Regions from separate parts of the Homo sapiens genome. Here regions 1, 2, 3, 5 and 6 are each linked to region 4. Evidence: fine-mapped expression QTL. A gene starts in region 4. Each other region holds a variant in brackets. All regions are shown on one strand. Distances are from middle to middle.

Region 1 (4,079 bases), 77 kb before region 4:
ACAGCCCACAGTAGATTTGAGGAATTATATTGTAGCTTAAAAAGGAAAGTTGATTTCCAGGTTTCCTGGTAGACAAACTGAGCCACTAACTAGTGACGGGATGTGATATGACCCAAGACAAAGAAACATGGAGCCGAAGTGGGATTACAATTTCAGTGGTCAAACTCCTAGCTTTCTACCCTAATTGGCAAACAGCACGCTTTTACCCAGAAGCCCAAGCGTCCTTACCCCCTGATCTTCACTTCTGGGATAAAGCCATTATGAAGCTCAATTTTTGTAATAAATGGACTCCTGAACCCTGGACTTAGTTGTGAAAGTGAAAGGAGATCCTTTGCTTCTAAAGGTCTCAGTAAATTTTCTCCTCCCTGCAGCTTCTTTCCCTAGGGAGTGAAGTCATAGGGTTGGGTAATCAGGCTGGGACCTCATGGGTTCCTTGAAATACTACGAGAGCAAAGGAAGCTGTGAGAAGAATCCTGGTGACCACACAGTGGCCCCTGGGTCAGGTGAGCAGTGCAGTCTGGTTGTGAGGCAGGACGGATTTATCTTTGACCTTTGGTCTCTTTCATAATCAGTGTTGTAAAATAAGTGCTCTGAGTTAGAGCTCAGGATTATCACCATAAGCACATGTTTCTATTCATTCAGTCCATTCCAAAAATGTCCTTTTCTTTCTTTACAACCTTCTCTCTCTCTCTCTGTGTGTGTGTGTGTGATCCACTTTCTATAGTATATATAGCATTTTCTTGAGACTGTTTTAGAAAATCTGCAGGAAAAGGATAAATCCATTAAACCATTCTCCCATGAATGAAGTGAAAATAATTTAAAGCATTTCAATAAAACAATAACAGTCGGGCCAGATGCAGTGGCTCCTGCCTGTAATCCCAGCACTTTGGGAGGCTGAGGCGGTTGGATCACTTGAGGCCAGGAGTTCGAGACCAACCTGGCCAACATGGTGAAACCCCATCTCTACTAAAAATACAAAAATTAGCCAGGTGTGGTGGCTTGCACCTCTTGTCCCAGCTACTCGGGAGACTAAGGCAGGAGAATCGCTTGAACCTGGGGGGTGGAGGTTGCAGTGAGCCAAGTTCGCACCACTGAACTCCAGCCTGGGTGACAGAGCAAGACTCTATCTCAAAAACAAAAACAAAGCAATAACAGTCATAATAAGAGCAAAATTGTGTAAAGCAGGTGCCCAGCATTGTTCTAAGCACTTTACATATATTAACTCCTTTAATCTTCACACTATTCCTATGAGGTAGGTACTAAAGTTATCCCCATATTCCACATGGGGAAACTAAGGCACAAAACAGTTAAGTAAAAGTTGAATTGTTGTCAAGTAAGAAAGTTTGGTATTTGAAAATGAGACCTCTAGCCTCAAAGCTTCTCATGAGTGAGTCCTGAGCGGTGTGCTCCGAGGAAGGTCAGGTGGTGAGGAAGCCCCAGACCTCTCCCTGATGTACAGGGCTGCCTCCAAATTCCTTCATCCACTCCAGTTCCACGGGCAGGAATGGATCTGAGTTTTGTGGAAGTGTCAGCTTATATGATTTGGCTCCCTCTTTTTAAAAACACAAAATATGTCTTTTGAAAATGTTGCCAAACCATATGACCAAATGAATATATGGTTAGGGCTTGGGAGGGGCCCATGCAAGGGGTGGCTCCAAAGGGGAAGCACCCCTAGCTCCACAGTACATCTGCCTTTGCCTCTGCCCATAAGATATCTCTGCTTCTTGCCAAACTGGGTATTGGAGTTCATTTAGACAGAAGAGTTTTCCTTTTCATTCCCAAACACGAGGCCCTCGGAAGTTACCAGTCAACAGCTATTTAACTGATACTTTATTCTGGTTATGTCCTTGCAACCATAACCATCTCTATTCTGGGACTGAAAACATTAGAGACAGTGTAACATGTCATGTGATCAGATTCGGCATGTTCTCTAAAATCTCAACAGTGCTAAATTGCCTCCCCATGTTACGAAAGTTGCCCAAGGAAATGAAATCCCAGGATGGATGCTCGCCATAAAAATAACCCCCTCGTTTCTCTGTCCCCTTCCCTGATAGTCACGGAAAAGCCAAGGATTAATAGACTCCTTTAATTTAACTCAGTTTTGTCTCTGATGAGGGTCTAGTGAAAGCAACTGCCCAATCTGTCGCTTGAATACTGTTTATATTTGTTGCCGGGATACCAAAGGCTCTCTTAAGCCTTTGGCTAAGAAGAGCACCATGCATCTGACCTTGTTCACCTGCACATAAAGCAAATAATGGCTGAAATGATAGGAAAGCTCCTCCAAACATTTGGAGTGGAACACAAGGCATTTTTGTGTCCGAAATTGCAGCGCCTAATATTTGTTGTTCAAATAAATCTCAACCTGCATACGGAAGTGCACATTACACATAATAAGATGAGGCTTTGAGAAGACAGATGTTAATTATTTTGAGGTAAATCAGAGCACCTCTGACCCAAACACCGAGCTGTAATTTGTTGCTCAGCTTCTTGGTCCTGAAATTAATGTAAATCTTTACATTCGTAATTTTACTTGCCAATG[G/C]CAAACCACCCACACAGTCTGTAAATGACTGCTCTGAGTCAGAGACTATTCATTTACGATTGTGTTAGATATTTTAAAATGTTCTCTGAAAGGATTAAATCACCTAATCCTGGTCCTTTCACTGGTTCTGCTTTCTGCAAAAATGATGGAGCTGGAGGACGTCTAAACTAGAAGGGACTTTAGAGTTTGTCTCTTCCCCAAATTTCTCCATTCAAGGATAAGAAACTAAGACCCTGATGTTAGAAGTGACTTGTCTCCAGGTCACTCAGCAACCAAAACTAACCCCCCAACCCCCGCAAAAAAAAAAAAAAAAAAAAAAAAAAAAAAAAATCCCAGGTTAGGATTTTAATAAATGGCCACACTTAGAAATCCTTGCTCAGAGTCCGGAAGCTACCCTTTCCCTGCCCTCCTGCCTCCGACAGCTTCTGTTAGTCCTGGTACTCCACAGTATGACTCGGTTCTAAAAGAATCATGCCATTTTGAATCCAGGTGGTCAGAATACGATTCCGATAAAACAAATCAGCAGCCGTTACAGCAATATGCATTAATTTTGGGGGAATGGATAGCCAAGAAATTGCTAATAACGGTGACTTTTGAGGAGGGGGCTAGTGATGAGAAACGCAGGACAGGAAGATGTTTACTTTTCGTTTTACATATTTTCTTTACTATTTGGCTTTTATTACCATGTACAGATGTTAACTATTAAAAACCTCAAAAGCAAATTAGAAATACTACGTTCACAAACTTCAAAGGAGAAATAGAATTTACCCCAGTAACACGGATGCTTGAAAATCTATGATACAGTACAGCAGTACTTTAAAAATTTTTTCTCCCAAAGTATCTGTAATGATAGAGGAGACTGAATTGGAGTCTGGGGGCAGTGCCAGAAATGGCCCTTGTATACCAAAACTCTCTTTGCAGTTTATGTTTTTAAAATGCCTTCAAATTAATAGACTCTCTAGCATCTCTGCATCTCTTTTGATACAAAAAAATGACGGTTTAAATGACTTACCATTCACGAAAACTGCCGCTCTGGGAAGACACCCCTCGTTTCTTTCTCCGGCGGTCCGGAGCGCCCGTAGCGCGCTGCTTCCAGTCACTGAGTGCAGAGGGCCCTTGGAATAGGAAGCACGGCTGTGCACAAGCTGACCTGTGTTCTGGCTCTCTCACCTGGAATCAGGCTTCACGGATCCTGTTATGTATTGAATAGTAACAAAACAACGGCATAAATTAGGGTGTTGCTAAGATTGTGTACCATCAACGTTCGCATGAGCGTAATGGACATAATGAATTCTATAGCACTATCCTGCACAGCTTGGAGAGATTAAAACCACTTTGTCTTTAAATTAAATTTCAAAAATCATTGAACAAGAATAGAAAGAACAACAACAAAAAAAACCCCCACCTCATCTATGTCAGCTACCCAATTGCAGGAGGCACCACTTCTTGCTTTCTGATCATTAATGCCTGGTCCTAGGTTTATTTTAATAGCTGCCAGCTCAGTGAGTCCACATCTATTGTAATAACCATAAAGGGGGCT
Region 2 (4,089 bases), 54 kb before region 4:
CAGGCGTATTATTTTCCCCACTTAATTTAATGAAGAAAAAATCAAAACTGCAGCTCAGAAAACATTTCTGTGCATGACAACTGCAAGAGTTTAGCTATCTATTTAATAATACTTGTGGAAGGGCAGGGTGTGGTGGCTCACACCTGTAATCCCAGCACTTTGGGAGGCAGAGGTGGGCAGATCACCTAAGGTCAGGAGTTCGAGACCAGCCTGGCCAACATGGTGAAACCCTGTCTCTACTACAAATACAAAAATTAGCCAGGCATGGTGGCAGGCGCCTGTAATCCCAGCTACTCGGGAGGCTGAAGCTGGAGAACTGCTCGAACCCGGGAGGAGGTTCCAGTGAGCTGAGATCACGCCATTGGACTCCAGCCTGGGTGACAATTTTTTTTTTCAAATTAAAAAAAAAATTACTTGTGGAAGAATACACAAGATATTATCATGAAATAATGTGAGGTTAGGATTTTATAGTTAAAAAAGTAAAAAATATTTTTGCAGCTTTCAGAACTGTTTGAAAAGTTGTCTGTTTCAAGGAAAATAAAGAGTAATAAACATGAACTATTCACTTTGGGTAAAGAATCTGCCACCCTCCAAACTCTAACAGATTGAGCTACAGATGAGATTTCCATGTGTGTGTGTGTTAACTGCCATTCTCCATAAAACAGAATGCCGCAGCAGTTGGAAAAGTGAATTATTTTGGTATACTTAAATAGGATAAGGCTTTGAGAGTTTACAGATTTGGCCAATATGTATTTAACCATAGTTTTATAACTCAGACTAGCAATAAATGACCAACACATCATTTTTTCTTTGGAAAATAAATTTAATCGGAAAAAATACTTGCAACATACCGAAAATCTCTCTCTATGTATGAGTGTATGTGTGTGTATAAATTAACAATTTTATGTTAGATATTAATGCATTTTTAAATGCATAGATAGGTGCTATTTGACAAGTATAGTTATATAAACTTTACATAGAATCTCTAAAGTGGAACAATCCTGAGATTTGATTTTTAGAAAGTTTGATACAGATGATTAGGTTAAAGTGTTTATAGTCAGTTACATTTTTTTGAGTATGTGTGTCAAATGTTCCATTTGATCCTTTCTAGGCAACTGGGACATCTTTGAGAATAACTTGACTAAATAACTTATTTTCAGAGTAGGCTTGCAAAGCAAGTTAAAAAGGCAGAGAATTTAGGCCACTGAACTGTACATGACTTCAATCAGAAGGTCTTTGGGGGGATAATTAAGCAGTCATGGTATAAACTGTCTTTCTGAAACACAAGATTTTAAGCCTGGGATGCTTCAAATTTCAAAAAAGAAGGATGATTCTACTACAATGGTGATAGCTTTTAAATGTTCGCTATTTTCATTTAGATTCTGATAAGGCATAATTTACACTGTGGTGTGTGCACTCAGATGTCAGCAAAAATTTGAGTTCAAAAAAGATTGTACTGGGGCAGGGTGCAGCGGCTCACACCTCTAATCCTAGCGCTTTGGGAGGCCAAGGCAGGAGGATTGCATGAGCCCAGGAGTTCAAGACCAGCCTGGGCAACATAGCAAGACCTCCCCAAAAAATTAGCTAGGTGTGGTGGTGTGCACCTATGGTCCCAACTCTCTGGAGGCTGAAGCAGGAGGATGTCTTGAGCCCAGTAGTTAAAGGCTGCAGTGAGCTATGATTGTGTCATTGTACTCCAGTCTGGGTGACAGAGCAAGACCCTGTCTCTAAAAACAAAACAAAACAACAGATTGTATTGGAAAGTCTCAGGTCAAACTGAGTGAAACTAGGCTGACGTTGGTTTGTGCAAGCTTTGCATTGACTACAAGTGACCCAGTGGCTGACCTCACAACGTGGTATCCACTCAGCCACTTCAATTACCTGTTGCTTTGAGATGTCATGGCAATGCCCTTTCTTTGGTG[T/C]CATGTTTCTATTCAGAGCGTAAATTGTACATTTTATCACTGCTAGACTCTGGTTATAAAATCTCGTGGAATGCCATCATGATACACTCTTGTTGGGAAACCTTCTCATAGTGCAGGTGTTCACAGGGACATCAGTTTGGAGATCTGAGGTGGTGCATGGCCAAACCATCTCATTTCCCAGAGCAGCAGATAGCAGTAGCTTCTCATCCCTCCTCAGGTGCACAGTTATGAGGCTACATTTATCTGTGATTGCAACATGCTGTCAGTCAGTGCACTTCTAGTTCCATTCCATTTTATAGAGTTGGTTTTTTAGGCTTCGGTTTTCTCGTTTTGAAGAACTTCTTTAATTCTCGTAATTCCTGGGGCTGCAAACTCTGATCGACTCCTGGGGTCAATTTATAGCTCAGTGGAGACAGAATGTAACCATTTTGATAAAGACAGATTCTCTTGCAGAACTCAAAGGTGCTAAACATAATTCCAAAATATGGAACTATCTGTTAAAACCAAAAATGAAAATCAAGTTAAGTTCTTAAAAAGAAAACATCAATGTGTCTGCAGTCAACTTGGATCAGGGTAAATTATCTTGTAAAGTGAGATAATGGCGGTGGCAATACAAATGGTAACTCTTTTTGGAATCAGGAAAGATGGCAAAAGGAAAGCTGGCTCAGTGTGGGTTGGGAGAGGAATGACAGTGATTGAAGGGCATGACCTGCCTGGGAGGCACTAGATCTGGGTCATATGCACGCAGACTATCTGATACTACCTGTCACTATATGCTGGCCTTGACTGGAATCATTTACATGCCAGCTAGTGCAAGGTTAGTCCAGAGTGCTTAATGTTTTTTGTTTTTGTTTTTTTTTTTTTTTGTCATGGAGTTCTTTGGGAATATGATGCACATATGCATATACACATACATTTTTGCATAGAATTTTAGGATGAGGGGTTAGGTTCCCATTAGGGGCCCATGAACCTCCACATTAAGTATCTCTGCACTAAATGCTCAGCTCCTCTGGAATGGGGTATAAGATACTCCACCACTGCACAGGTTCCCCTCTCTACGGGGCTGACAGACAGTGTGCATTCATGGGCCTTGTGCTACCCATTAGTGCTAGAGGGGGTTTTCCAAGCAAACTGTAGTAGGGGTTGGGGGTGACAAAGGAAGAGGGTAGAATTGGAAGAGGCAGGGGAGCAGCGGAGGCTGGTGGCTCTTCTCACCTTCAGTAAATTGGCTGTCAATCCATTCCAGAGCCCCAGGACCCCCTGGGCCTTCACTATCTGCCGGAAGCAGTCCACTGCTCCTGAGAAATGGACATCTACTCCTCCACTGTGTGGGAGGTAGGGGCTCTGAGCCTGACAGGAAACAGAAGCTGGGATGAGGTGATTGAAACATTAGGAAATAAATGTCCTAGTGGAAGGAGCCAGGGTCTCAAGTCTACATTCTGGATGCTGGGTTCCTGGCCAAGATGATGGCAAAGAATGGCTGCTGTGGGGTTCTTCTTGTTCTGTGGGCTTAGAACAGATATTAACGTGCAATACAATCATGATACCCTGTCCATATATTTGTCGTTTATTTTGCCTGGAAGGAAGCAGACATTTGGGACAGATTCAATTTCATACTTACATTCCCTCCCAACCTGTGCCTTCTGGACATGATAAACATAATCCCATGCCCTTAGCCTTTTTAAAGTATTCTGTTTCCTTGTCTTTACTGGTCCTTCCCCTGTGAAGCTCCCAAGCGGAGGCTGTTCATTTCTCCACCTCACAGATGTGACAGGGTAGGGAGCATTGTGATGGTGGCATTCTTCTCGCTCTCTGTTGCTGTTCCCAAACCCTTCCTCCTTCACTCTCACGACAGAAGCACTTAGCTGGGGCTGATGTCACTGAACCATACTCCTTGGCCTGCTATTATCTACTAATCTGGCCACTCTTCCACGTTCATTGAAGACTGTGATACCTGGTGGCTCACCCTCTCCTAGCCTCGCCGTCATCTTAGGTAACTTTGGCATCTATAAAGACGACCCAGCCCATGACCAGTTTCTGGCCTTCGGCTTCAGTGATCCTCACCTTTATACCATTTTGGCCACCCCGTGGACATCATCACCACCTTCAGAGCCATCCTGACGGAACCCTATTATTACCAAAATGCTCCATCTCTGAAAGGAACGTT
Region 3 (4,089 bases), 110 kb after region 4:
TGCTTGAGGGGATGGATGCTCCTTTTACCCTGGTGTGATTATTACACATGGCATGCCTGTATCACAATATCTCATGTACCCCATAAATATATAAACCTATTATATAACCACAAAATTAAAAATAAATTTTTTAAAAAAAGATATTAGCAAATAGAATTCAGAATGTATAAAAGGTATTATGCATAATGACAAAATAGTGCTTATTTCAGAGATGCAAAGCTAGTTCAATATTCAAAAATCAATCAATGTAATCTGTGATACTAAAAGGCCACTGAAGAAAACTTACATGATCACATAAATTGATGCAGAAAAGTGACTTGAGAAAATACAACACCCATTCAGAATAAAAAAATACTCAGTTTTCTAGGAATAGAGGGAAATTCCTCAACTTGATAAAAGGCAAGTACAAAAACCTATAGCTGACGACAAGAATGCCCTCTCTTGCCACTCTTTTATTTTATTTTATTTTTAAGACAAGGTCTCACTATGTTGCCCAGGATGGTCTCCAACTTCTGGCCTCAAGTGATCCTCATGCCTTGGCCTCCCAAAGTGTTGGGATTACAGGCATGAGCCACCACGCCCAGCTGCCACTCTTATTCAACAAAGTGCTGGAAGTTTTAGTCAGTGCAATAAGATGAGAAAAGGAAATAAAAGGCATACAAAATAGAAAGGCATAAATAAAACTGCCTCTATTTGCAAATGACATAACTGTCTACACAGTAAATCTCAGGAATCATTTAAAAACCTAGAACTAATAAATGCATTCAGCAAGGCTGTCAGATACTAGATCAACAATGAATGTGTGGACACTGAAATGAAAAATAGAATACTTTTACAATAGCTAAAAAATTTAATACTTCAGTGCAAATCTAACAAAACATGTAAAGCACTTGTATGCTGAAGACTACAAAATTCTGATGAAGGAAATCAAAGATCTATATAAATGGAGAGACATACCATGGATGGAAAACTGAACACAGTAAAGACATCAATTCTCCCCAAATTGATATACAAGTTTAATGCAATAATTATTAGAATCATAGCAAGAACTTTTGTAGACAAAGACATGTTTATTTTAAAATTTATATGTAAAGCAACAGGCCCTAGAATAGTTAAAACGTAGTGAAAATAAGTTAATAAGATTAAAGTATATGGAATCACTTGTGTTATGACTTAATATGATGCTACGGTAGTCAAGATAGTGTGGTATTGGTGGAGGGATAAACACAGATTGGAGGGACAGAAGAGAGAATCCAGGACAGACTCTTAAAAACAAATATGGCAAACTGATTTTTGACAAATGCACAAAAGAATGTCAATGGAGGAAATATAGCTTTTTCAACAAATGATGCTAAAACAATTGGATATCCACAGGCAAAAAACAAACAAACAAACAAACAAACACCTTGACCTATATATCACATCTTACACAAAAATCAACTCAAAATGGATTATGAACTTAAGTGTAAAACACAAAACTATAAAGGTTTTAGAAAAAAAAACACAGGAGAAAATCTTTGGGATCTAGGGCTATGTGAATAGTTCTCATACCTGACACCAAAGGCATTAGCCATAAAAGGAAAAATTTATAAATTGGACTTAATCAAAATGAAAAACTTCTGCTTTGCGAAAGAGGATGAAAAGGCAAGCTATAAGCTTGGAGAAAATATTTGCAAACCACATATCCAACAAAGGACCTGTATACAGAATATTTAAAGAACTCCCAAAAACTTAACAGTTAAAAAATAAAACCAATCAATTCAATCAGAAAATGAACAAAAGTCATGAAGAGTCATTCCATGAATGAGGAGATATAGATAGCAAATAAGCATAGTTAATGATGTTCATTGTAAGGGAAATGCAAATTAAAACCACATTGAAGTATCACTATGTATTTGTCAGAATAAATAATATTAGAGACAACATCAAATGCTAGTAAGGGT[G/T]TGGAGAGATGGAATCACTTATGTACATTGTTGTTTGGAATGTAAAATGATACAATCATACTGGAAGGGAGTATGGCAGTTTCTTTCTTTCCTCTTTCTTTCTTTCTTTCTTTCTTTCTTTCTTTCTTTCTTTCTTTCTTTCTTTCCTTCTTTCTTTCTTTTGGGGTCTCCCTCTGTCACCCAGGCTGGAGTGAAGTGGTGTGATCATGGCTCACTGCGGCCTCAAACTCCTGGGCTCAATCGATTCTCCCACCTCAGCCTCCCAAGTAGCTGGGACCACAGGCATGGGCCACCATGCTGGCTAATGTTTTGTATTTTTTGTAGAGATGGGGTTTTGCCATATTGCCCAGGCTGGTTTCGAACTCCTGTCCTCAAGTGATCCACCTGCCTCGGTCTCCCGAAGTGCTGGGATTACAGGCATGAGCCACTGCACCTGACTATGGTTTCTTAAAAAACTAAACATGCAACTACTATATGACCCAGCAATTTCACAGAATAGTTCCTCTTCCCAGAGTTGTTTTACAAGGCATAATTGACTGAAAAATACTGCCCATAAGACATTAAGTCACATGAGTGGACTATACATGGACATTGAGAATTACTAGGCCTGAAAATTATGGGTCCCCTATCTTCTTGGGCTTCTCTATTTCCATGGTGGCCAAGCTCTGTCTCTCCCCTTGGCTGGTCTTTGAAATTCAGGAGCTGATAGCTCCTCTGCTGCCATCTGTCTAGCTTGCCTGGCATTGTGCTGAAGAAGTTGACTTTGGCTCCCTCTGAAACCCCAAGTGGGTTATGTAGCTTTCTCCTCCAGATCTAACCAGCTACCTAATGGAAGAGTTACCAAACTCTTGAGGCAGGCAGGAAACATCCCTTTTGCATTCCTGCCAGTCAGACTGGCTAGGATAGGAGTGGGGGTCAGGATGCTGGATGGGACCCTCAGCTGGGATCCAACCTGCTCTACTTCCACGGGCCATGTAGTGATTTGTGGCTTCTCTCACTCCTGCATAGGCCTCCTGGCTTGCTTTCAAGATAAGAGTCAAAGGTTGTGAGCCTTCGCCAATTTTTCCTGGGTAAGGAAAACTCATTTCCTTTCCTTGGCATTTGTCCCCTTTCCTCTCTTTCTCACTCCAAGTGTCTCTTTTACAGTCTCTTCTGGGAACTTCCTCTCTCCAATCTGTGACACCTTCTATAATTCCTGCCCTTCTATTTTCAGTTTATGTTGATGCCTGTAGGGTCATATGTGAAAGCCTTTTAGAAACTCCAGCTAAAATTATGCAATTGCAAAGCATCATTGCTGCTTGCCTGTTAGATGGGCAAGGTCCTGTGCTATATGCTAACTGAATCTGCCCACAAGTAGCGTACATCTAATGGGAAGATAACTAATATTAATACAGAGAAACATATGCCAAGAGCCACAAGAACAATAAAGAAAATATGCTATGAATTCGGATCTGTTTCACTCCCATCTTCCAGGAATCAACAGGCCAGACAGGAGGCTTTGCCAGAAAGCCTTTTCAAACCTGGCATTCTAAGTTTCCATCATGTCTGTATTAATTTCCTATTGCCACTCTAATAAACTAACACAAATTTAGTGGCTTAAAATAATGCAGACTTACTATCTGACAGTTCTAGAGGCCAAAAGTTTTACAATCAAGCTGTCAGTATGTATTAGTCCATTCTCACATTGCTATAAAAAAACTACCTGAGACTTTATAAAGAAAAGAGATTTAATTGACTCACAGTTCTGCAGGCTATACAGGAGCCATGGCTGGGTAGGCCTCAGGAAACTTATAATCATGGCAAAATATGAAGGGGAAGCAAGCACACCTTCACATGGTGACAGGAGAGAGAGTGAAGGGGGAGGTGCTACACAGTTTTAAACAACCAGATCTCGTGAGAACTCACTACCATGAGAACAGCAGGGGGGGAATCCACCCCCATGATCCAATCACCTCCCACCAGGTCCCTCCCCCAACACTGGGGATTACAATTCAACATGAGATTTGAGTAGAGACACAGAGCCAAACCATATCACAGCAGGACTGTGTTCCTTCTAGAAGCCCTAAGGGAGAATTTGTTTTCTTGCCATTTCCAGAGGCCGTCTGAATTTCTTGCTTGTGACTGTATTCTCCATCTACAGAGCACA
Region 4 (4,089 bases):
AATTAGTGTCAAATGGATGCAGGGAGGCAGCATGATGTAACAGAAAGACTATGAGATTTGGAGTCAGAAGGCCAGGTAGTGGAGCTCAGCTCGGTCACTGACAAGAGGTGTCATCACTCTGAGCCCAATTCTGCATCTGTAAAACAGGCACAATGCTTCCTGTCCTATGGACCTTACAGGGCAGGAGGCAGGAGCTTAAAAAATCTAATGTGCATATACTAGGTGCTTAGCAGAAGAGCCACAATACTTAAACCAGCCTTTGAAGTTCTGCCCCCCACCCCTCTGGACATATTTTATCCCATCCAAAGGAAGATTTCCACACTACTTTGTAGAGAAGAGGGTGAAGTGGGGGAGAAACTGAGTCATTAAGACTCAGAGGAGAACTGTTTACAGACTGCAGGCCAGATGTTGATGAGGGCAAGCAGAGGTGGGGAGGAAAAAGGGCCTTAACTAAATGTCATGGTCCCACCCATGAGTCCCTCTGCAGAGGAAGAGAAGGGAACTCTATTTCCAGGCAGAGGCAAAATGAGTACTGGCCTAGAGGCCTAGGTAATAAGGATGATTCCGTTCGGCTTGTCGGCTGCCAGGTGAGCCTTCCACCTCTGGCCTCCCAGGTGAGTGACAGTGTCAAGGCAAAATCCTTTGACTATTAGCCGCCAAGACTAAACTATGCGGTCAAGACCGACTCTCCCAAATGTGGGCTGTTTGTCTAATTCAGAGCCAAGGCGATATCAAAGATGCCACTGTGCCCACTGAATGAGGAACACAGGGACCGTCCCCCCAATACAGAAACATCTCTGCTTCCTGAAATGCCATCACTACCAATTCATTCTTTCAGGCTTGGTTTCCAGTTCAAATGCAGGTACCTCTGAGCTCGGTGGAAGCTTTAAGGCTGCATTTACACCTTTAGATCTTTTCCTAAGGAGCAGCTGTTGATGTGGGAGAAGGTGGAAAAGGCCCAAATAAATGAGGCCAGTGGGGTGAAGCGGTAGGCTGAGGGGGCCGTTCTCAGCTTGGGGAGGGGAAGCTGCAGCCTCTGTCGGAGCCTGAAGTCAAGCTTCATTTAAGTTGGGGAGATGTGTGGGCAAAAATCTGCGGCCTTTTCGTATCGATGGATCGGGTCCTTTCCCCACACCAAGCACTTTCTTCTCGGGGCTTGGGTCACACAGACAAAAACACCTTTAAAAGGGTCTCTCTCTTCCTAAGCCAGCCTAAGCAAAAGTTTCCAAATTGGAGGACGGTGGAAATGGTTAGGACTCATCTCTCTGGAGAGCTTTTCATTCCTTTCCTCCAAATCCTTTGCTGCATTCCACCTCCTCGCCCGGTCCAATCCGGAAAGCCTCTCGGACCAGGGCTGCGGACCACAAAACTGCATCTTGCAGGGCGGTAACCCCAAGAGAACGTGAAAAGCATTGGGGCTGCACTCTGGGGGCCATAGAGGTGGCCCACCGCCCCGAGGGGTCCCCAGGTGATCGACAAGGGGGCCGTCCCTACTCCAGGGCCCCGAGTCCAGGCAGCAGGGCGGCGTCGGGCCGCGGCTCCCCCACCCCACCCCCGTCCGGTCTCCCGGTTCCCCGGCCCCGCCCGGCTCTTACTTGCGGTAGGCGGCGAGCTGCACGGCGCTGCAGGGGAAGAGGCGCAGGCACGCCACCGCGTTCCCCTTCCACAGGGCCCGGAGCCCCTCTGCCCGCCACACCCGGTGCCCTGTGGCCCACGGTCCCCGGGCGTGGCCTCGCACGACGCCAACCTGGGCCAGCACGGTGGCGAGCTCCAGGGGCGCGGTGAGGCTGAGGCTGAGCGTCCCCGCCAGCCCAGCGCACAGCAGCCTTTGGCCGCCTGTCAGTCGGCCGTCCCGCCTCCACGTAGCCATCGAGCCCCGACCCGGGCCCGGAAGACCGCGTGGCTCGGGCCTGGGGCTCTCCGGCCACGGGCGGAGGTGGCGGGCCCCAGGCCCCGCCCGGCATGGGGCGGGCCCGCGTGAGGGACGGGAAGCCCCGTCTACGCCCTAGCCTGGCCCGAGGCTGGTCGGGGGTGGGGCGCGAGGGCCTGGAGGGTCCGGGGTCCGAGGCCGCGGATATCATGGGCATAGTCTCCCCAGTTGGCAAGGCTCGAGTAGCGACTTTCAGTTGCGAAACAGTTACTGTTCTCTCAAGGCCCAGCCTGCTAGACATCTTGCTTCCTAAATGTTCAGTGCGCCCCCGCCGCCCCTCCCTGCCTCTCCTCTGGTTTGCCCCTTTTCTCCCTTTCACGTGCCACTTCTCTGTCTTCCTCCCCTGGCGCTTCCCTCCTCCTCCTCTTGCCTCCAACCCATTTTTTTTTCCTGCCTAACCAAAAAGCCTTGATGGTTTCCCAGTGCAGAAGGTAAAAAATTCTAACAACCACAGTTGCTATCTCTCAGGCACTTGTCAAGTACTGGGCTTTACAGACGTTCTCATGTAATCCTCAAAACGGCCCTAAGTACGTATGTCCTCATTGACAGAGGCTGTGTGGGTGTGGGGACTTGAATCTGGACTCTTGAACCTGTGTAAGATTCTTGGCTCTGCAGCTTACCAGCTGTGGGACCTTGGGGAAGTCACTCAACCTCTCTGTGTGTCAGTTGCTTTATAAAACAGAGATTATAATTTTTTCCTCCTAGGGGTTGTTGTAAGGATTAATGAACAATGACTGGTATGGGTAAGCAGTTTATATGTGTTAGTTCTGATTAGGTATTCATTTACAGGAGAGGAAACCAAGACACAGAGAGGACTTGCTCAGGCTCACACAGCTACCTACAAAGCAGAGACCGGTTTGAAATCTAGGGCGGTTTATGTCAGTTTCCACTAACGGCTACACTATATGTCTACTAGGACTGCAGAGTTAACTCCAGTAGGGACATTTTCAGTGGTTCTGTAAGCTAAGAGAACAATAGAGGCAAAGAATGGCTAAGAGAGGCTTGGCCAGAATCCGAGGATTCTTTAATCAGTTCAAAAATTTCAGAATTTCAGAATTTCTTTCTGTCTCTTTTTTTTCTAAAAAAGCCATGTCACTAATAATTACAAGGAAAGGAACTGTCAGCAGTCTGTTGGTGTGAGCAAGATGTTCCGGGTACATAGTTGTTTTTAGGCTTGTATAGTTATTTACATTTACTAACACACAATGCTATAGGAACGTTTTCTAAAAGGCATTGCAGGGTTTCTCCTTTTTTATTTTTCACTGTCAATCTCACTTGAGTATGACATTACAAGGTTTTGACTGTGAGAACTTGTTCTAGTTGCAGAAGCCATACTCTGCTCTCAACAATTGGGGAATGCTTATTTTCATGTTTTGTGAATTCTTCTGTCTTGTTGTAAGCTAATTTGATGGCTGGGGGAAGCTTGAGAAAGATGTATGACTCTGAAGACCGGAGGACCCCGACTTTAAAAGGGCTTGAATTGGAATTTGGGGATTACAATAAGGAAACCTTCGGGTACTGGTACTTCCTAAAGCCCTTTGTTGGATAACGGGACAAGATTCTAAAGCTCTTTCAGGAAGTTCGTGGGTCTGGAACATTTCATGTGATAACCCCATTGTATGGAGATTGGGTCAGCCAAGTTATGTTTTTTTTTTTTTTGAGACAGAGTCTCGCTCTGTCGCCCAGGGTGAAGTGCAGTGGCATGGTCTTGGCTCACTGTAACCTCTGCCTCCTAGGTTCAAGCGATTCTCCTGCCTCAGCCTCCTAAGTAGCTGGGACTACAGGCATGTGCCACCATACCCAACTAATTTTTTTGTATTTTCAGTAGAGATGGGGTTCGCCATGTTGGCCAGGCTGGTCTCGAATTCCTGACCTCAGATGATCCACCTGCCTCGGCCTCCCAAAGTGCCGAAATTACAGGCATGAGCCACCGCGCCTGGCCTATTTTAACCTTGAAAGTAAAATGTATGGCCGGGCGCGGTGGCTCACGCCTATAATCCCAGCACTTTGGGAGGCTGAGGCGGGCGGATCACGAGGTCAGGAGATCGAGACCATCCTGGCTAACACGGTGAAACCCCGTCTCTACTGAAAATACAAAAAATTAGCCGGGCGAGGTGGCGGGCGCCTGTAGTCCCACCTACTTGGGAGGCTGAGGCAGG
Region 5 (4,089 bases), 84 kb before region 4:
CAGCTAATTTTTGCATTTTTAGTAGAGACAGGGTTTCACCGTGTCGGCCAGGCTGGTCTCAAATTCCTATGCTCAAGTGATCCTCGCATCTTGGCCTCCCAAAATGCTGGGATTATAGTGGTAAGCCACCACACCTGGCCCACCCTTCCGCCCTTCCTTTCCTTTCCTTCCTTCCTTCCTTCCTTCCTCTCTTCCTTCCTTCTTTCCTCCCTCCCTCCCTTCCTTCCACAAACATGTATTGAGAGCCTACTATGTGTCAGGGACTGTGCTAGGCACTGAGGCTAGAGCAGAGGCAGAGGGCCCTGCCCTCCTGCACTTGGCATTCTCGATCATTCATACCTTCCTGCTTTTGTGCCCTTAGTGCATGCCCTTCCCTCTGTCTGGATTGTCTTCCTCATGCCTCTTCACCAAAGATCAACGCCATCATCAGGGCCCAACTGAAATCTCACCTCCACCATGCAGCCCTGACCACCCCGCCCAGTGATTGCTCTCTAAGAGAATCCATTAAATACTTATCATCTGGACAGCGCATTTGGCACATGTCAGATGTTCTGGCACTCTTAACTCTCATGTTTATATATGGATCCTATCACTCAGGAAACATTTCCATTCTCCTCAAGAAACATTAACTGGGTGCCTCCTATATATTTTAGCAGTGGTAAACATAATGAAACTTTGTGGTGCCTCTTTCAGTTACAACAGCTTTCATAACTATTTTATCATTTGGTTTTCACAAAACACCATCACTTCCATTTTATGCTTCAATTTAAAAAAATATAATGTATACCCCAGCTAGAATAGCTATTGTCAAAAAGACAAAAAAAAAAAAATGCTAGGGAGGATGCAGAGAAAAGGGGACTTGTACATTGTTGATGAGAATGTAAATCAGTACAGCCATTATGGAAAATGGTATGAAGGTTTCTTAAAAAAAAAAAAACAAACTACAAATAGGACTACCATATGATCCAGCAATTCCACTCACTACTGGATATATACCCCCAAAAAGGAAATCAGTGTATTGAGATACCTGCCTCCCCATGTTTATTGCAGCACTATTTACAATAGCTAAGATATGGAATCTATCTTAGTGTCCATCAATGGATGAATGGATAGAGAAAATGTCACACAGACACAGCAGAATATTATTCAGCCATAAAAAAGAATGAGATCTTGTCATTCATGACAAGATGGATGAGCCTGGAGGACATTATGTTAAGTGAAATAAGTCAGGCATGTTCTGCATGTTCTCACTTATATGTGGGAGCTAAAAAAAACTCCTGAGCTCATAGAAGTAGAGAGTAGAATTATGATTATTAGAGGCTGGGAAAGGTAGAGGGGAGGGGAGGATAGGGAGAGGTTGGTTACAAAGTTACAGCTAAATCGAAGGAATAAAGCTGGGTGCAGTGGCTCATGCCTGTAATCCCAGCACTTTGGGAGGCTGAGGTAGGTGGATCACTTGAGGTCAGGAGTTCGAGGCCATCCTGGCCAACCTGGTGAAACCCCATCTCTACTAAAAATACAAAATTAGCTGGGTGTGGTGGTGAGCGCCTGTAATCCCAGCTACTCATGAGGCTGAGGCTGGAGAATCGCTTGAACCCAGAAGGTGGAGGTTGCAGTGAGCCGAGATGGCACCACTGCACTCCAGCCTGGGCAACAGAGCGAGATTCTATCTAAAAAAAAAAAAAAAAAATGTGTACTGTTAAAAATGTAATTTAAATTACTTACTTCATGGATAAGTATGTTCTCATGAACATTAAAACATTATAAATCTGGCTATCATTGTAGATCTGACCACCGCTACCCTACTCCAGACTCCCTCAGAGATACAGAAGAGGAAACTGAGACTCAAAGAAGTGACATGGTGTGCCCAAGGCCACACAGCTAGTGCCTGTGGGGGATTTTCTGATTCTAAATCTCTCTCTGTTTTTTTTCTTTTTTGAGACGGAGTCTCACTCAGTCGCCCAGGCTGGAGTGCAGTGGTGCAATCTTGGCTTACTGCAACCTCCACTTCCCGGGGTTCAAGCAATTCTCCTGCCTCAGCCTCCCAAGTAGCTGAGACTACAGGCATGCGCCACCACGCCCTGCTAATTTTTTTTTTTTTTTTTTTTTTTTTAGTAGAGACAGGATTTTACCTTGTTGGTCAAGCTGGTCTCGAACTCCAGACCTCAAATAATCCACCCACCTTGGCCTCCCAAAGTGTTGGGATTACCGGCGTGAGCCACCGCGCCCAGCCTGACTTTAAATCTCTTGCTATTCTAATTTTTCTACACTGCCTCCCATCACCACAAGAATCCTTTCTATTCCTCACTGTGTCCCTGGTGCCCAGCACAGGGCTCTGCACCAAAGCTGGGGCTCAGCAAATATTTCCATATCAATGGATTCCCTGGCAGAGGGTTTCCTTTGCACGAAGGCATTGCCTTC[T/C]GAGGTGGGCTACACCGACCTCATTTGGTCAGTGAAGGCTCGAAGTGGCAACTGAGGCCATGCAGGCATCCTCCCAGGTGTCCCTTCTGCCACCCCAGGGCTTGGCGACATCAGGGATCCTGAGAGTCTCCTTTGGGAGCCAATACAGTGAGACCCAGTAGAGGTACACCAGGTGTTTGCTGGGCACACGCTATGTGGCTGCCGGTATGCCAATGGCCGTGTGTGACTCGGGGGAGAAATGCAAAGTATGATATTGTTGAGCCAAGATTTGTCCCATACGTAGGACACAGTGACCAGCCAGCACATATCCAAGTTCTAAATTATGCAGTGCTGATGATGCTTTGGGGGTTCAGGGGAGGAAGAGCTTGGCTGGAGCGGCCAGGGTAGACTTCTTGGGGGCGGTGGGTTTAGCTGAGCTTGGTGGAAAGCGGTCTGCGTGGAGGACACAGCTCTTCCAGCGGAGTCGGCCGCGGTGCCCAGGCCGAGGCGAGAAGCAGCGCGCCCTCTGCAGGCAGGTGCGAGAGGCGGCCGGAGACCCGCCTGGGCACGTGGACTGGAAAAGGAAGGAGTCGGCCATCGGCTGCTGCCGCTGCGGCTGCGCTGCGACTTTTTCAGCCTGTCTGTCTCAATCCAGCCTTGCACTTCGGCGACTTTCAACCGCCATTAGGCCTGCAAAAGCCGCGTTTTTTCCCTCAGGGCGTGCCCTGCCCTCCTCTCTCCTAGTTGTCTGCAGCTCCCCGCCTGGCGGGCCGGGCCATTTCCTTCTGCTGCTACTCGGCATAGTCCTAGCGGACTGTTTTAGCCACCGCGCTGAGAGCGCTCTTTACAAAGTTTCCCAGATTACAAAACCGGCGCCTAAAGGGAAGGGGCCGACTCTGAGAGAGCCCGTAGTTATTTAACAAACACTTAAGCGCATATTATATGCTAGGCTTTGTGCCAAGCGCCTCGCAAATATTAATTTATTTCATCCTCACTACAGTGCCAGGCAAGTAGTGTTCTTGACCCCATTTTCCGGCTGAGCAAGGTGAGGCAGTGAGACTTAGAATCTTGCTCACCATTTCACAGCTGGAAAGGGGCGGAACCATGCTCTTAACCACTGCACCAAGCGCCTCTCCAGGGGCTCCTCACATGGGTAGGTCCCCAAGCAGGCCGATGGTCCCTAAAGAGCTTGAACCCCTCCCTTCCTCTGGGCCTCCGTGGTTATTTTCCAGGCACCGCAGCATTAAGTGCTACTTTCTGACTCTCTCTAAGTTGGGGGGGGGTTCCCTTTGTTTTCAGGGTTTTCATCTGCAGGTGTTACACGTGGTTTGCCAGGTGCCTCGGTTTCCTCATCTGGGAAATGGTAATCTTAGCACCTGCATCATAAGGCCACTGAAAGGATTAAATGAGTATCCACAATTAAAAGAGTGCCTGGCCCATAGTCAAAGCTCAAGAAATGACAATGGATGTTACTACTGAGCAAGTCCGCTGCTGCACTCCTGGAGGCCTCCCACTCACAAGTGAGAGAGAACAAACTCTGCCTGCTTCCTGAGCACGTCAAAAAGGGCCACATTCACTCAAGGGTTCTCATGGGCTTTTAGTGGCTGAAATAGTCTTAGAAGCTGGGAACATTAGGCCCAGGTCTGGGAGCAGGTCTGGCCTAATCAGCCCTAATCAGTCACATGGGCG
Region 6 (4,089 bases), 48 kb before region 4:
ATTTTTAGTAGAGATGGGGTTTCCCTGTGTTGGGCAGGCTGGTCTTGAACTCCTGACCTCAGGTGATCCACCTGCCTCGGCCTCCCAAAGTGCTGAGATTACAGGTATGAGCCACCGTGCCCGGCCTCATTCTTTATACTACAGCCAGAACGCATTTCTAAAATTCCAATTCAGACCACTGACTACTTTACTGACATTTTACCGCCTATAGGATAAAATCTAAGCTCCTTAGAATGACATGTAAGGCCCTTCATGACAACTTTTCCAACATGAAAAGCATCACTCACCCCAATCATACTGACTGCACTCCTTAGCTCTTTTTTATACTCCCATTATCTCCTCTAAAGACTATTCATTTATTTGCATATTTATTGATACTTACTATATGCCCGACACTCAGGATACATTAGTGAACCAAACAGACAAAAGTCCCTGTTCCTATAAAGCTGAAAGTCTAATTGCAGGGGAAGACAAGACAAAGAAAGAAAATAAATAAGTAAATTACACCAAATACTAAGAGGAGGTGAGTGCTCTGGATAAAATAAAAGCAGGGGGAACATAAGGAGTGTCTGGAGGATGCTGAAGTTTTTATTAGGGTAATCAGAGAAGACCTCACCAAGAAGATGGCTTTTTGGAGATCTGAAGGAAGTGAGGAAGCAAGTTGTACAGATATCTTCAAAGGCCCTGGGACAGGAGCATGTCCGGGGTGTTACAGAGGCAATGAGGAGGCCAATGTGGTGGTAATGGAATGAACAAAATAGAGAGTAATGGGATATGACTTCACAAAAGTAAATGGTGGCTAGGTTGTATAAGGCTGGTAGGGCACACAGTAAGAATTTTGGCTTTTACTGAGAAGACTGGTCACTGGGGGGGGTTATGAATAGAAGAATGGCATGACCTAATTTATATTTTCACATGATCACTGGCTGCTGTGTTGAAAAAGACTCAAGAATGGAGGGAAAAGTAGGATGGAGACTGGTTAGGAGATTACTAGAGTAATTTAGGCAAGAGATGACGGTAGCTTGGACTGGGATGCTAGTGGTGGAGTGGTGAGCAGTGATCAGACTCGATATATTCTGAAGGTAGAGTCAACAGGATTGGCTGATGGACTGGATGAGGGTGTGAGAGGAGAGTCAAGGATGGCTCTAAAGTTTCTGGCCTAAGTGACGGGATAGACAGAAGTGCCATGAACTGAGATGGAGGACGCTATGGGAGAAGCAGGTTGGCTTTTTGTTTTTGTTTTTTGAGGGTGGGTGAAAACATCAGGAGTTCAACTGCGCAATGCTTGTTAGCCATTCAAATGGAGATGGAGAGTTGGCTACATGAGTCTGGAGTTCAGGGGAGAGGTCAGGGCCGGAGACATAATTAGGGAGTGATCAGTACATGGGTGGTATTTAAAGCCAGGAGACCAGATGAGATCACTTAGGGCTTGAGCCTGGGGATACTTCCACATTAGACCCCACAAAGAAGACTGAGAAGGAGCAGTTGGTGAAGAAGGAAAAGGAAAGTGTGGTGTCCAGGAAGCCAAGTGAAGGTGGTATGTCAAGGAGGAGTGGTGAGCTGCTGAGGGCCCAGTAAGATGAAGACTGAGAAGTGACCATTGGATCTAAACACATGGAGGTCACTGGTTATCATAAAAAGAGAAGTTTTGGCTGGGTGCAGTGGCTCACATGTGCAATCCCAGCACTTTGGGAGGCCATAGGGGGAGGATTGCTTGAGCCCAGGAGTTCAAGACCAGCCTGGGCAACACAGTGGGACCCCTATCTCTGCAAAAAATATAAAAATTAGCTGGGTGTGGTGGTGCACACCTGTAGTCCCAGTTACTTGGGGGGGCTGAGGTGGGAGGGTTGCTTGAGCCCATGAGGTTGAGGCTGCAGTGAACCATGATTGTGCCACTGTACTCCAGCCTGGGCGATAGAGTGAGTCCATGTCTCAAAAAATAAAAGAGAAGTTTATTGGATGGTGGAGCAAAAGTCTGACTGGAATGGACTCAAGAGAGAATCGGGCTGGGCATGGTGGCTCACGCCTGTAATTCTAGCACTTTGGGAGGCCAAGGCAAGTGGATCACCTGAGGTCAGGAGTTAGAGACCAGCCTGGCCAACATGGCAAAACCCTGTCTCTGCTAAAAATACAAAAATGAGCTGGGCATGGT[G/C]GTGGGTGCCTGTAATCCCAGCTACTCAGGAAGCTGAGTCATGAGAATCACTTGAACCCGGGAGGTGGAGGTTGCAGTGAGCTGAGATCACGCCACTGCACTCCAGCCTGGGCAACAGAGTGAGACTCTGTCTCAAAAAAAAAGAGAATGGGAAGAGAAAGATTGGAGATGGTGAATATAGACAACTCTTTCAAAGAGGCCTCTTTCACAATTGTACTGTAATCATGTCCAATTTACATGTCTGTTTTTCCTAGTGTTCTGTGAACTCTGAGGACTGGGTCTTTTTAATTTCTGTATCTCTAGTGCCTTAAGCAGCAGCTGACACATGACTGGTGCTCAATGAATGGCTTGCTGAATGAGTACATAAAATGCCCAGTATAAGAGTGGGCTGGAATTTTTAAAGCATTTTCACATAATTTTATGCATGAGTTATAAAAACGGTAGGTCAAGACTTATACAATGTAATGTAGAATCTTTGCAGAAAACAAATATCAAAATTCATTTCATTTCTCTCTTCACAAGACATTGTAGATGGTTCTATTTTACTAAGATGTAATGGCATAGTACAAAATATTACACATGTAGTCCATATTACTATTGCCACTACTGATGCATAGCTGCTGACATTTATTGACTGCTTATGTGTCTGTTAAAGTTGAGGAAACTGAGGCTCAGGGACAGGTTAAGTGATTTGACCAAGGTCATACAGCAGGTAATGAACACATTTTATTCTGTTTTATATTCCAGTTAGTTGTTTCCTGTCTCTTTCCCTCAGGATACTATGAGACCTGTGATGGCTAGGACCACATTTTACTTAGCTTTTCTCTCTTCCACCCTCCTTAAAAATCTGTAGAAGAATGAATTACAATCAGTGAAGCAGTGTGAAAACTCGATTTTACTGATTCAAACCAGGCTTTCTGGACTTTCTTTTTTTTTTTTTTTTTTTTTTTTTTTGAGATGGAGTCCCACTCTGTCACTCAGGCTAGAGAGCAGTGGTTGATCTCGGCTCACTGCAACCTCTGCCTCCCAGATTCAAGCAATTCTCCTGCCTCAGCCTCCCGAGTAGCTGGGATTGCAGGTGCATGCCACCACACCCAGCTAATTTTTGTACTTTTAGTAGAGGTGGGGTTTCACCATGTTGGCCAGGCTGGCCTCAAACTCTTGACCTCAGGTGATCCTCCTGCCTCGGCCTCCCAAAGTGCTGGGATTATGGGCATGAGCCACCTCTTTGTTGCCCCTGACAATGAAAGCTGGCTCTTTCTTGCTCTCCTTCTGATTACTAGATCTCCAAGGACTTGATTACTTTAGACTCTGATAACGCAGATCCCTAAACCAGAGACCCCAATCTGAAATGGACCCTAAGATCTTCCCTTCCAATTATTCGTTTCACAAACAAAAACCTATGACCTGGAGAAGCAGAGCAACTTAACCAAAGCCCCCAGCTGGTGCATAGCAGAGGCAGACCTAGAGGCCAGATGCTGTGCCTACTGGGCCACTGCAATCTGTACTCCAGGATCCTGCCTCCTGGTGACTCTGCGACCTTGGCATCTAGGCTCCAAGGCTTTACACTACAACTTATGCTGCCCCTAACAGCCACCTAACTCATGTCCTTGCAGGACACCCCACCCCACTACTGTTGCTGCACAACCCTGGCAATGCCAGTCGTCATCTTGTCCAAGTTAGACTTTAGCTTTTCTCATGACCCCCAACTATAAGGACATTCAATACAGCATATAGTAAAAGGCAACTAATTCCAACTAGTGGGTATGTATAGGGGGGAAGTCGGCCTAAATGAGTGAAATCTAAATTATGAAATTTTGGAAAGACACTCCATTTTATTATACATGACTGGAACTAGATTAATGAAGGGCAACCTAGTAGAGACACTTTTCAGGCCTTACTTTCATGCATGGTTGAGTGATCTGTGGAAGCCTAGG

Evidence for each region. PIP is the estimated chance that this variant, and not a neighbour inherited with it, causes the effect.
Region 1: its variant is the best candidate, but not a certain one, in a credible set for the expression of SLC25A43 in blood mononuclear cells (TOPMed, PIP 0.56).
Region 2: its variant is the best candidate, but not a certain one, in a credible set for the expression of SLC25A43 in tibial artery (GTEx, PIP 0.51).
Region 3: its variant is the best candidate, but not a certain one, in a credible set for the expression of SLC25A43 in fibroblasts (GTEx, PIP 0.61).
Region 5: its variant is the best candidate, but not a certain one, in a credible set for the expression of SLC25A43 in esophagus muscle (GTEx, PIP 0.73).
Region 6: its variant is the best candidate, but not a certain one, in a credible set for the expression of SLC25A43 in whole blood (TOPMed, PIP 0.72).

Annotation. Positions count from the first base shown.
Region 1 is chrX:119,474,367-119,478,445 of GRCh38, reverse strand. No RefSeq gene overlaps it. Among named protein-coding and RNA genes, the nearest start is that of SLC25A5-AS1, 7.3 kb to the right of the region's middle. The variant G/C (reference allele first, on the strand shown) is at 2,540.
Region 2 is chrX:119,451,192-119,455,280 of GRCh38, reverse strand. It overlaps SLC25A43 (solute carrier family 25 member 43), which reads right to left. Exons shown (of 5, transcript NM_145305.3): 4 at 3,138-3,272; 5 at 803-2,416. The coding sequence ends at 2,216. Among named protein-coding and RNA genes, the nearest start is that of SLC25A5, 15 kb to the left of the region's middle. The variant T/C (reference allele first, on the strand shown) is at 1,923.
Region 3 is chrX:119,291,216-119,295,304 of GRCh38, reverse strand. LINC03098 (long intergenic non-protein coding RNA 3098) reads right to left here and starts at 3,776. Exons shown (of 4, transcript NR_110396.1): 1 at 3,684-3,776. The variant G/T (reference allele first, on the strand shown) is at 1,944.
Region 4 is chrX:119,397,185-119,401,273 of GRCh38, reverse strand. SLC25A43 (solute carrier family 25 member 43) reads right to left here and starts at 1,938. Exons shown (of 5, transcript NM_145305.3): 1 at 1,596-1,938. The coding sequence starts at 1,870. RefSeq lists a silencer at 1,415-2,074.
Region 5 is chrX:119,481,684-119,485,772 of GRCh38, reverse strand. No RefSeq gene overlaps it. Among named protein-coding and RNA genes, the nearest start is that of SLC25A5-AS1, 15 kb to the right of the region's middle. RefSeq lists enhancers at 3,046-3,095, 3,146-3,245. The variant T/C (reference allele first, on the strand shown) is at 2,422.
Region 6 is chrX:119,445,169-119,449,257 of GRCh38, reverse strand. The region is part of intron 3 of SLC25A43 (solute carrier family 25 member 43); the gene reads right to left. Among named protein-coding and RNA genes, the nearest start is that of SLC25A5, 21 kb to the left of the region's middle. The variant G/C (reference allele first, on the strand shown) is at 2,153.